Linked DNA regions of Homo sapiens. The protein of the gene in region 2 purifies or fractionates together with the protein of the main gene of each other region. This does not show direct contact. Each region holds a gene or a part of one and is shown on either strand. Other genes may lie near its edges.

Region 1 (3,655 bases), on a different chromosome or scaffold from region 2:
ATGGCTTATGGGTTATCTATGTGTATACGTACAACTGCATAGTTACAGAATATCTTTATCCATGGTTCTAATAGCAGATTAACTCACTTTCTGGGTAAATTAAGGCAAGACTTAAATGCCTCCATTTCGTCTGTAGAGCAGGGATGGTAGCATGATACTTATACAGCCACACGTATGATTACATATGTAATATATTTTGTGAATTTTAGAGCATCTAAATAGCCACTATAAGCACAGTATTGAATTATTAAAGCATTTTGGAAGGAATAATTCTGTTACAGGAGGGCTTTGAAAAGATACTAATTCAGATGGAAGATGAATACATACCTTTTTTTGCACATTTTGGAATTTTGTTGACAGTTTGGTAACCCGTTTTGGCCTCTGGTTTAGAGAAACATATTGTGCACTAGTCTCAGTTCTTGCATACATCACATACATCTGTTTCCTTTACTTTCTTTTCTTTTTAGTTGTTGATATAAGACCCTCAGTAATTACCTGAGTTTTTGATGCTTTTTTGGATGGGTTGTTTTTTTGTTTTTTTTTTTTTTTAATTTTGAACCATTCCATCTTCTCTGTCTTTCTCTATCTTTTTATCCTTTTTCGCCTTTCTTCCCCCACCACCTGGGAGCCATGAGGCAAGGGAGGAAGGTGGTTGCCTTCTTTTGCCCTCTGAATTTGAACCTTCTGAAGAAGTAGACCTCCCCTGGAGGAAAGAATCCTGAAAATAGCAGTGCGCTTTCACTAAATTTCTATGCTGTGAAAAGTGCAGAACTGTATTTATGAAAAAAAAAATATATATATATATATATATATGTGTAAATGTTCTAATTTTAACACTTGGCTAACAAGCAATGTGACCTCCTATGTCAAGAGGAGACATTTACCCAAAGGATCATTTCTCCTTCCCCTCCCTCCCATGAGTAGCCATGAAGAGTCTGTGTTTGGGTTTCTAGGGGCTGCAGTCTGTCTGAGGATGGGGGCATGCTGGCCCAGTGTCAAGGCCTGTCAAAAGAAGTGACCGAGCTCAGTCAGGAAGAGAAGAAATTAGATGAACTGATCCAAAGCTGCACCCTGGACCTCAAACTGTTAACCGAGGATTCAGAGAATCAAAGATATCCTTTGTGCCGCCAGTTCTCTGGGGGTTAGTGCTTCCTAGACTATTTCCAGAGTTGACAATCTGACTTATGCACAAGGTAGATTATTATTCTGATGTCATGCAAATGAGTACCTGTGTGCCTGTGTGTGTATGTGTGTGTGTGTGCACGTGTGTGTGTAAACCCAGTTAGCTTTGCCTAAAAAGTCAGTATTTATGGTAAGATAGTCACCAACTCGATCCTATTATTATCTATTTTGATACCAGGTGGGAACTGTTTTTTAAAGCATTTTTTCATGTGTGGTTGAGACATGGGTATACTCGTAGCGTAAGGCCACACTATTAAAAGATACATAAGGTGTCGGTATTAATATTAATGACAACACTAAGCAGATTCGTCTTTGGCTTCCCAGATTTTTGGTGGGTGTTAGCTGTCACTGTTGGGGTTCTCACATTCTATTTTCTTCTCACCAGATATCGTAGCAATTGAAATTGGTTGAATCTATCTGATTGGGCTATAGTTGAAGGGTTTGAAAGAGTAGAGAAAAATCATACTATAACTCTTAAAGTGCATTCTGCTGATTCCCAATGAAAAAACTGATTTCAAAAGCACCCCAAGACCTGAGAAACCCCTCTCAATTCCTCTGTTCCACTACAAACATTAGTCCTCGCAAATAAAAATACAAAAGGTCAGTTCTTGTTCTCAACTTCCTGACAATCTATTGACGATCTCAGGAAAACTTGCTCTTCATCATCTCACTACAGACAAAGTAAGAGAGAGATTGCCTCATTATGTCAAACAAGACTTGCCAATATTCTCAGTTATTAGAAGACAAAAAACAGTACTGTAAGTTATCCCATCTCTAGTTTTAGTTCCAAACTTCTGATGATTGCACATTTACCATTATTTGACAAAAACTAAAAAGTGTTCTGCCCAGATTCTTCTAGTGTCTCATCTTTAACAGGCTCCCCCTTGGAGAATATGGAGATATTTATTTTCTTCCAATGTTGGCAGTTTTTCAAACCTGCAATTGTTCATTTCCTGTTGACCAAAGAATTAACCTTGTCAGCCGATAATTAGTGAGATGGAAGAGAGGCGTAGTGATTTGGACCCCCAGTGGTTGGCAGAGTGGGTTTACAGGGGAAGAAACCAACAGTTGGGCTGTTTCATTCATTGTTTGGTTGGGAGCCCCATTGTGGAAGAGATGGGTGGTTACATGTGATTGGCAGCCTTCCGGGACATGTGGCTTATGGCATTGTCACCTATATTAGCTCTCTCTGGGGCCTTTGTTGCAGAAAATGAAAGCTTCCTTGCAGGGAACTTCGAACCCAAGGAGTAAATTCAGGAGGGAGCCACAAAGGAAGCACTTTTAAGTTTGTAAGATTAGAAAATACATTTGCACAATTTATTTCAGTTCACCATTCAGTTCCCAAATTGGTACAGCTTGTTCACAAATGTGTTGAAATTTTCCTTCCTGCAGCATGTTGAGTAATCGTAGATGAGTTTTTCTTTTACACTTGATCTTAGCCAAAAGGCCAAGAAGTGATGAGTTTTTATTTTAATAAGTTCTTGTCATACAGCTTTTTGACAGTGAGCTGTAGTGTAAGTACCTGGTTGTCAGTTTTTTCCAGTGTTCTCAGTAAAAAATCAGAACTGCCTGGCCCTCTATAAAGGCATCCGTTGACTTCTTTGATGGGTTATGTAGTGACCTAAAACCCAGAATCCTGCAAGAGCAGCCACTACAAGCTCAACACTGAATTAGCCATCATCTCAACTGTAAAGATTTGAAGGAGATAGTCTGTGATAGATCCCCTACATGTGTATGCAGATTTCGTGTGAATGTGCTTTCTTTCTGGAGTAGTAGTTCCATAGCTGCATTCAGTTTCTAATAAGAAGCTACTACAGCCAGGCACGGTGGCTCATGCCTGTAATCCCAGCTACTCGGGAGGCTGAGGCAGGAGAATCACTTGAACCTGGGAGACAGAGGTGGCAGTGAGCTGAAATCGTGCCACTGCACTCCAGCCTTAGTGACAGAGTGGGAGTCCGTCTCAAAAAAAAAAAAAAAAAGAAGCTACTATCGTAAGGGACATGATTTATTCTAGGGTCTCTAAGCCCCCCCTTTTTTTTATATTAAACATATTAGATCACGGACTCTATTAGCCATTAAATACGTTATACTACCTGCTGAAATGCCTTCATTGGTTTGTTACTTGCTGTTTTATCCTAGGAATTTTTTGTGGGTACATATAAAAAATAATAACGGGCTAAAGACATTGTACATTAATTGAATACTTTTGTCATATCGTAAGTACCATATTCTTTCATGATAGCCTTTTAGGCTTGGCTGTCAGGACATTTAAAAGAATGGTTCAGTGCTTAGAAAAAATGACCAAGGCCGGGCGCCGTGGCTCACACCTGTAATCCCAGCACTTTGGGAGGCCGGAGGCAGGCAGATCACTTGAGTCCAGGAGTTCAAGACCAGCCTGGGCAACAGGGTAAAACCCCATCTCTACTAAAAATAAAAAAAATTAGCCGGGTGTGGTGGTGCACGCCTGTAGTCC
Region 2 (3,655 bases):
AGAAGTCTGATAGCTGCCAGAAAAGTTTGAGAAGAATCCATCAGTTCCCCTGAAGACTAAACTGAGAATAATCCTTTAGAAGGATGAAGAGCTTGTGTGTTGGAAGGTAGTCAGTTCCTAGTTTGTTCTGAAAAATCTTTGTTTTAAATTTTTTTAATCCTGAGTTTCTAAAAACATGAAGATAATGTCAGACCTGTTCCAAGTGAGAATTATTTCTGGGCATACTTTCATGACAAATATTTGAAGCACTCTAAAGCTCCAAAAGACTTTAGACCTAGTTCATCTTCAGATTATTTCCATCTTAACGTTTCCACCTCTTTGGCCCCAAAATGGGCACCTTTTGTTGCCATTTAGGAAAGGGAGAAGTTTGGGGTTTTTTGGTTTGGTTTTTGTTTTTTTTGAGACAGGGTCTCACTATGTCACCCAGGCCAGGCTGGAGTACAGTGGGCCATTATGGCTCACTGCAGCCTCAAACTCCTGAACTCAAGCGATCCTCCCACCTCAGCCTCCCAGGTAGCCGGGACTACAGGCTCGTGCCACCAGGTATGGCTAGTTGTGTTTTTTGTAGAGACGAAATCCCACTCTGTGCACCGGCTGGTCTCGAGCTCTTGGTCTCAAGCAGCCTTTCCACCTTGGCCTCCCAAAGTGCTGGGATTATAGGCATGAGCCATTGTGCCCAGCCAAAGGAGAAGTTTTGAAGGGAGCTTTTACTTACTTATTTTTGAGTCAGGGTCTTGCTCTGTCAGGAAGGCTGGATCACAATGGCACGATCTTGGTTCACTGCAACTCCCATCTCCTGGGCTCAAGTGATCCTCCCACCTCAGTCTCCCGAATAGCTGGGACTACAGGCACACACCACCACACCTGGCTAGTTTTTTTGTTGTATTTTTTGTAAGAGATGGGGTTTCACCATTTTGCCCAGGCTGGTCTCGAACTCCTGAACTCAAATGATCCACTCGCCTCAGCCTCCCTAAGTGCTGTGATTACAGGTGTGAGCCACTGCACCTGGCCTTGAAGAAAGCTTTTGGTGTTTGGGATAAACATGTTCTCTGCTTTATTCAAGAGCAGATGCTAGCTTAAGTACCAAGACAAATTCTTGAGGGAGCTCAGAGTTTTTAATCTAGGTTGCTTGGCTAAGTAAGAATGTTGGAGATATCTGTTGAGAATATTAATGGTGGTGCTTTTAATGACCTCTTGGGCTAGGAAGAAAGCATTTGAGAAATCGTATTTTTTTTGTTATTCCTAGGTGGGAAACAGTTAAATAAATACGATCCATTCAGTAGAAACCCTCTGTTCTGTGGAGCTGAAAATACAAGTCTTTGGGAACTCAAAAAGGTAAAATAATTTCAAATTGTCTTTTATTCATTTATGCTATATATATATATATATATTTTTTTTTTTTTTGAGACAGAGTCTTCCTCTGTCACCAGGCTGGAGTGCAGTGGCATGATTGTGGCTCACTGTAACGTCCGCCTTCCGGGTTCAAGCCATTCTCCTGGCTCAGCCTCCCAAGTAGCTGGGATTACAGGCGCCCACCACCACGCCCAGCTAATTTTTGTATTTTTAGTAGAGACGGGGTTTCACCATGTTGGCCAGGATGGTCTTGATCTCCTGACCTTGTGATCCGCCTGCCTCAGCCTCCCAAAGTGCTGGGATTACAGGCATGAGCCACTGCGCCCGGCCTATGCTGTATATTTTTGCCCTTGAGGATGTAATGCCTTGAAGTTTTTGTTTTTTTATGATAATTATAAGCATTAATAAACATTAAAAGTCCACATTTGGGGGAAGATACTATGTGAAGTGTTCATTTTGTAGAAAATCTTAAGTGTGCACGTAAAATAAGGATGTCATGCATGGGTTATGACTGTTGCTTTTTGTAGGTAGATTATTGCATATAGAGTTGAGAAAATGGATAAATTTTGCTTTATTTATTAGATACCTCTGAAAAGTTTTATGATAAAATTTTTTGCAAGTAAAGTTACTTTTCTGAATTTGTAAGAGGAATTCATATTTTTAATAACCTTTCTGTGACTTTTTGTGTAAAGCCAGTAAGTATCTTATGCAGCTATTCTCAAAGTGCGGCCAGACCACTAAGAGTTCCTGATACCTTTTTAGTGAGTCGGCCAGGTCACAGCTCTTTCCATAGTAATACCAGTACATTATTTGTTTTCATCACTGTGTTGACGGTGGCACTGATACTATAAAAGAAATGATAGGTAAAACTGCTGCAGCTTATCCTGAATAAAGACAGCACCAAGCTGCATCAGAAGCCATTATATTCATCACTGCCACATATGTGCAGTTAAAAAAAAAAAAGCCAGTATGACTTAAGAATGATGACACAGGGAGAATTACTGATTTTAGTGTCTTGACCTTAAAGTAACATGTCTTTTTAGTATTTCGTGTGCATACATAGCAAGTATGCGTAACATACCTGTGCTGCCTACCTAAAGCATGAAGGTTGTCACGTGTCTCAAGGACAAGTGCTTACCAGTTGTTGCAAGCTCATCTAGCTGCTCTTTCATGAAAGACTGACAAACTGGTTATTCAGGCTTAGGTATTTGGGAGATATTTTCTTGAAAATGAATGAAACAAAAAAGCTGGCAGTATTTGTTGTCAGCAATAAAATTCAAAAATAAAGCTTTCGAGCAAAGATTAAAGTTTTAAAAATCTTGTAACCACCACCTTGAGCTTGACAGTTTCTCAATTTGTAAAACTTTTCTGATGAAATCAGTGGTTCTAACAATGTGATTGTTGTGGTAAAGTATAACGAAATGTGCCAGTGTTTGGAAGGACTGCATATGGTATTTTTCCAATGACCAATGCACAATGTTACAAATTCTTTTTTTTGAAACGAGAAGGTTCTGTCACCCATACTGGAATGCAGTGGCGCGATCTCGGCTCACTGCAACCTCTACCTCCTGAGTAGCTGGGATTACAGGAGCATGCCACCATGCCCAGCTAATTTTTTTATTTTTAGCACAGACAGTGTTTTGCCATGTTGTCCAGGCTGGTCTCGAACTCCTGACTTCAGGTGATCCACCTACCTCAGCCTCCCAAAGTGCTGGGATTACAGGCATGAGCCACTGTGCCACCTGAATGTTACAAATTCTTGAGTGAATAAATGATTGATTCAAAGTAGACCAAATAATTTTAAGTAGCAAGTACCAAAAGCCAATTGAATATGGGTTTCAGATTCCATATTACAACTAATCTTTGGTTTTGGTATAGTACTAAAGAAGAAAATTCACAGCTATGTGAAAGACTATTTTCTACACATGAGGCCAGATTGTATGTTTCAACGTGGAATACAGAAGCAGATGAAATAATCCACTCTCTTCTGTTAAGCCAGACATTAAAGAGATTTGCAAAACTGTAAAGTAATACTACTCGCTATATATTTCGTCCTGAAGCATAATTATTTTTCTTTTTTTCTTTTTTCTTTTTTTTTTTGAGGCAGAGTCTTGCTCTGTCGCCCAGGCTGGAGTGCGGTGGTGCGATCTCAGCTCACTGCAAGCTCCGCCTCCCGGGTTCACACCATCCTCCTGCCTCAGCCTCCCGAGTAGCTGAGACTACAGGCGCACACCGCCACGCCTGGCTAATTTTTTGTATTTTTAGTAGAGACGGGGTTTCACCGTGTTAGCCAGGATGGTCT
Region 3 (3,655 bases), on a different chromosome or scaffold from region 2:
TGTATGACTGTAGTGCCAGATCTGTTGTGTCTTTTTGCTTTTTTTTTCTGTTTTCAGGGAAGCTGTGATTAAGCACTCATTGGTGCATAAAGTATTCTTGGACTTTTTTACCTATGCACCCCCCAAACTCAGATCAGTAAGTTCTTGGTTTTTGTTTTTAAACTAAAACATGGAGGAGGAGCGGTGTAGAAATTTGAAAAACTGCTTTGATGTACGTTGTCTTGTGGAAATTTTAGAGTTGCTTCCTTATTTAGGGAAGATAATTTACTCAACTCCCTTTGAACACGTTTGCTAATTCCATTTAGGTTTTATTCCAGTAAACAATAGAATTGACCCTAGTTTTACTAATCATATTAAATTTTTATATCTTAATTATAATCCAGAGAGTATCCGCTGGCTAACCTAATCTGAAAATTAACTAACTCGTGGAGGAATATTCAAGCATTCGGATAGTTTTAAATTCAACTGTGCTAATACAAAAAAAAAATTAGCTTGGCATTAAAAGGTTAGAGGAGGATATGTTTGTAAAACTAAGTGGACGATGAAAACCTGGACTTTATATCATAGAAGAACAGAGTGAAGGTAAATTGCACTGCCCTTCAAGTCAGTCATGGGAATACAAATGAGAATTCATCATTTAGTTCCCTGAACTTTGCTTGCCTCATCATACAGTGAGCTCATTGTCCATTTGTCCTCATTTTCCAATCACAAGGGATAATGAAAATAATGAGACTGACTTAACAAATAACGCCAGACTATACATTCATTGGAGTTTTGACCCTCTTAAAATTGGCATGCAAAATAATTTCCTGATGGTAGCCACCCACGTAAGCTTATGGTTTGATGACCATAGCAGCACCTTCTGTTTTGGAGATTTTTCTTACTTCCTGAAAAATACAGTATCCCACGGTTCTGAGGCAGGACTATATGCTCAGAAATGACACAATGATTATTTGAATATATTCAGTGGTAGAAAGTATCTTTTTAGTGTTGAATGTTTCAGTAACAGCAAAAAATCATTTGGAACTTAGCATGCGTGTAAAGTAATGAGACAAATTGTCTTTTCTGGTATTGGGGGCATTTTCAAAAGAGACTTAAAAAAAAAAAAACCTTCGGGGAAAATGGAAGCATAATTGGAATATATGCATGGCTTTCCATCTGGATAGCTCTGAAGAGATTCCTAAGTTCAGATATGTTAGTTGAAACTGCTCTTGAGAGTCATCTTGGGAAGGGATTGTTAGATACTTGAGGCTGAAATTGTTTGTTCCTTATTGATGAAATTAGGCACCTACCCTCTCTTTCGTGGCATGAGGCTTTGTATTTATTTAATGTACATTTTTAAATTGGGAATAGACTAAAATGGAGCTCTGCACTTGTTAGTTGCCAGAACTCATTTACATCCTACATGCCTTAGACTTTGAAAATATAGGGCCAGGCACGGTGGCTCACACCTGTAATCCCAGCACTTTGGGAACCCGAGGCGGGCAGATCACAAGGTCAGTAGTTCGAGACCAGCCTGGCCAATATGGTGAAACCCAGTCTCTACTAAAATACAAAAATTAGCCGGGGGTGGTGGCGGGCACCTGTAGCCCCAGCTACTCGGGAGGCTGAGGCAGGAGAATTGCTTGAACCTGGGAGGTGGAGGTTGCAGTAAGCCAAGATGGCACCACTGCACTCCAGCCTGGGTGACAGAGCAAGACTCCGTCTCCAAAAAAAAAAGAAAATGTAAATAAGAAATTATATACATGGAAAATGAAGGCTAAAGGTTAAATTAAGCTAAGCTACCTAGTGAGAAATTAAATGTTTTTTACTAAAGGGTCATTTTATAGGTGAGGTCTTAGTCTAAATGTTAGTATAGAAATTTTTCATGAGGAAATGTTATGTAAGCGTGTTTATGGTAAAGAATGTGATTTTTGGAGATAATCCAGTTATGAACTGAAAAGGGAAGCTTTTCAGTCAAAATGAGTGTTTTGATTCTGTTTATTGCATACAGGTCTCTTTTGGGGAAGAGCATTTTCTTTGTCTCGCTATTCTGTTAAAAGCTCCCTTCTTATCACCACCACCTCCTAGGCTTCTTTTTCTTGGAAAATTATTTAGAATATATTATATTACACATATAGCTTGACCTTTTTTTTAACAGACATTGGTAAAAGTCAGGTATTGTTTTTAATAGATATTGTCTGCCAGCAGTATTTACTGCTCTTGATGGAAAAGAACATTTCTAGAAAGAGCTCGTGTTTCTGTTTGATTGTCTACAAAATGAAATTGTTTGCTACCTGGCACTCTCTTCCTTTCCTTCTCTCTGCATAACTGCCCCCTGTAGACAGACAGATAAAACAGTAGAAAGAAGAAAATAAAGCAGAGCCCTGTTCCTGACAGCATTTGTTCCCTAGGAAATGATTGAAGCCATCCGCGAAGCGGTGGTCTACCTGGCACACACACACGATGGCGCCAGAGTGGCCATGCACTGCCTGTGGCATGGCACGCCCAAGGTAAGTGTGACAGCACTTGGGCATTTAAACTGTACAAGTCAGGGCCATGCTTTATCTGCAGGCTTGACTTAGCTGTCCTTAGACTTTTAACCCCCTTTGGTCTTTGCCCTGTTGTGCATTATCTTCCAAAAGTTGTGCCTTAGAGCCTGATGGGAATGAGCCATCTTCTTTAGGCCTAGTGTTTCTTCTTTCCTCTGCTTTAGTAGAAACCTTGAAGTTTCATTAAAGGATGGGAAGAGATCTATCAAGCAAGTAAACATAATATGTATTTAAGCTTTAGTTTATAGAGGTTTTGGTACCTCCTCTTTTAATGATCATACTGTGGCAGGGGAAAATGGGAAGAGATAACAAACAGCTGGCCACACACATTTGCTCCCATAGGTGTTATGTACTTGAGGGAAAAGGTAAAGATCCTTATTAATCACAGAAGTTTAACAGAAATTATCATTATTTCCTTGGTCAGCATAATTCTGCCTTTAAAAGATAGTTGTACTATATCTACTTTTTTTAATGCAAATTTAATTTTATTCAACAAATGCAGATGAGTACTAACTGTTTGCTAGACTCTGCATTTGAGGACAGTTTAGACCTTGGAAGAAGGATCTGTCTGGTCTCACTGTGAAAGGTGGCTTGCAAACCCTAACCCTAACCCTAACCCTAACCCTAACCCTATCACATACACATCTAAGCTTGTAATAGCTCTAAGCCAACTTCTTTGGTATATTACAGTTTTTTTGTTCTGGCTGTATAACTATTATTTTTACTAATGAAAACATATGCCACTCAAATGAAAACTTAATAAATATTATATTAAAATGTTTAACTACAAAATACCCTTAATACATAACTGAAAATTCAGTGAGACAATCTTTCCTTTTTAAGGACAGGAAAGTGATTGTGAAAACAATGAAGACTTATGTTGAAAAGGTGGCTAATGTAAGTATAATAAAACTACATATTCTAATTATTTTTGATAGTAAGATGAATTCATGTCTATTATAGAAAATTTGGAAAAATTCAGAAAATTACCAAGCAGAAAATTATTGTTTTATTATATTTTTCTTTGCATCTACATGTATTTTCATATTTTATCTACACAAAATGGAAATCATGTCACATGCATTCTTTTCTCCTTTTTTAATTTAACATTGTATTGTGATAGT

Evidence for each region.
Region 1: the proteins of CEBPZ (region 2) and E2F3 purify together in Homo sapiens (pull-down; one large-scale study listed by IntAct). This does not show direct contact.
Region 3: the proteins of CEBPZ (region 2) and PUM3 fractionate together in Homo sapiens (co-fractionation; one large-scale study listed by BioGRID). This does not show direct contact.

The regions. Positions count from the first base shown.
Region 1 is NC_000006.12:20,481,809-20,485,463, forward strand, and holds part of E2F3 (transcription factor E2F3), read left to right. Parts: intron 1-953; coding exon 954-1,112; coding exon of another isoform or gene 1,113-1,141; intron 1,142-3,655.
Region 2 is NC_000002.12:37,218,065-37,221,719, reverse strand, and holds part of CEBPZ (CCAAT/enhancer-binding protein zeta), read left to right. Parts: intron 1-1,246; coding exon 1,247-1,335; intron 1,336-3,655. UniProt on the Homo sapiens protein: Stimulates transcription from the HSP70 promoter.
Region 3 is NC_000009.12:2,823,554-2,827,208, reverse strand, and holds part of PUM3 (pumilio homolog 3), read left to right. Parts: intron 1-57; coding exon 58-136; intron 137-2,393; coding exon 2,394-2,492; intron 2,493-3,374; coding exon 3,375-3,428; intron 3,429-3,655. UniProt on the Homo sapiens protein: Inhibits the poly(ADP-ribosyl)ation activity of PARP1 and the degradation of PARP1 by CASP3 following genotoxic stress. Binds to double-stranded RNA or DNA without sequence specificity. Involved in development of the eye and of primordial germ cells.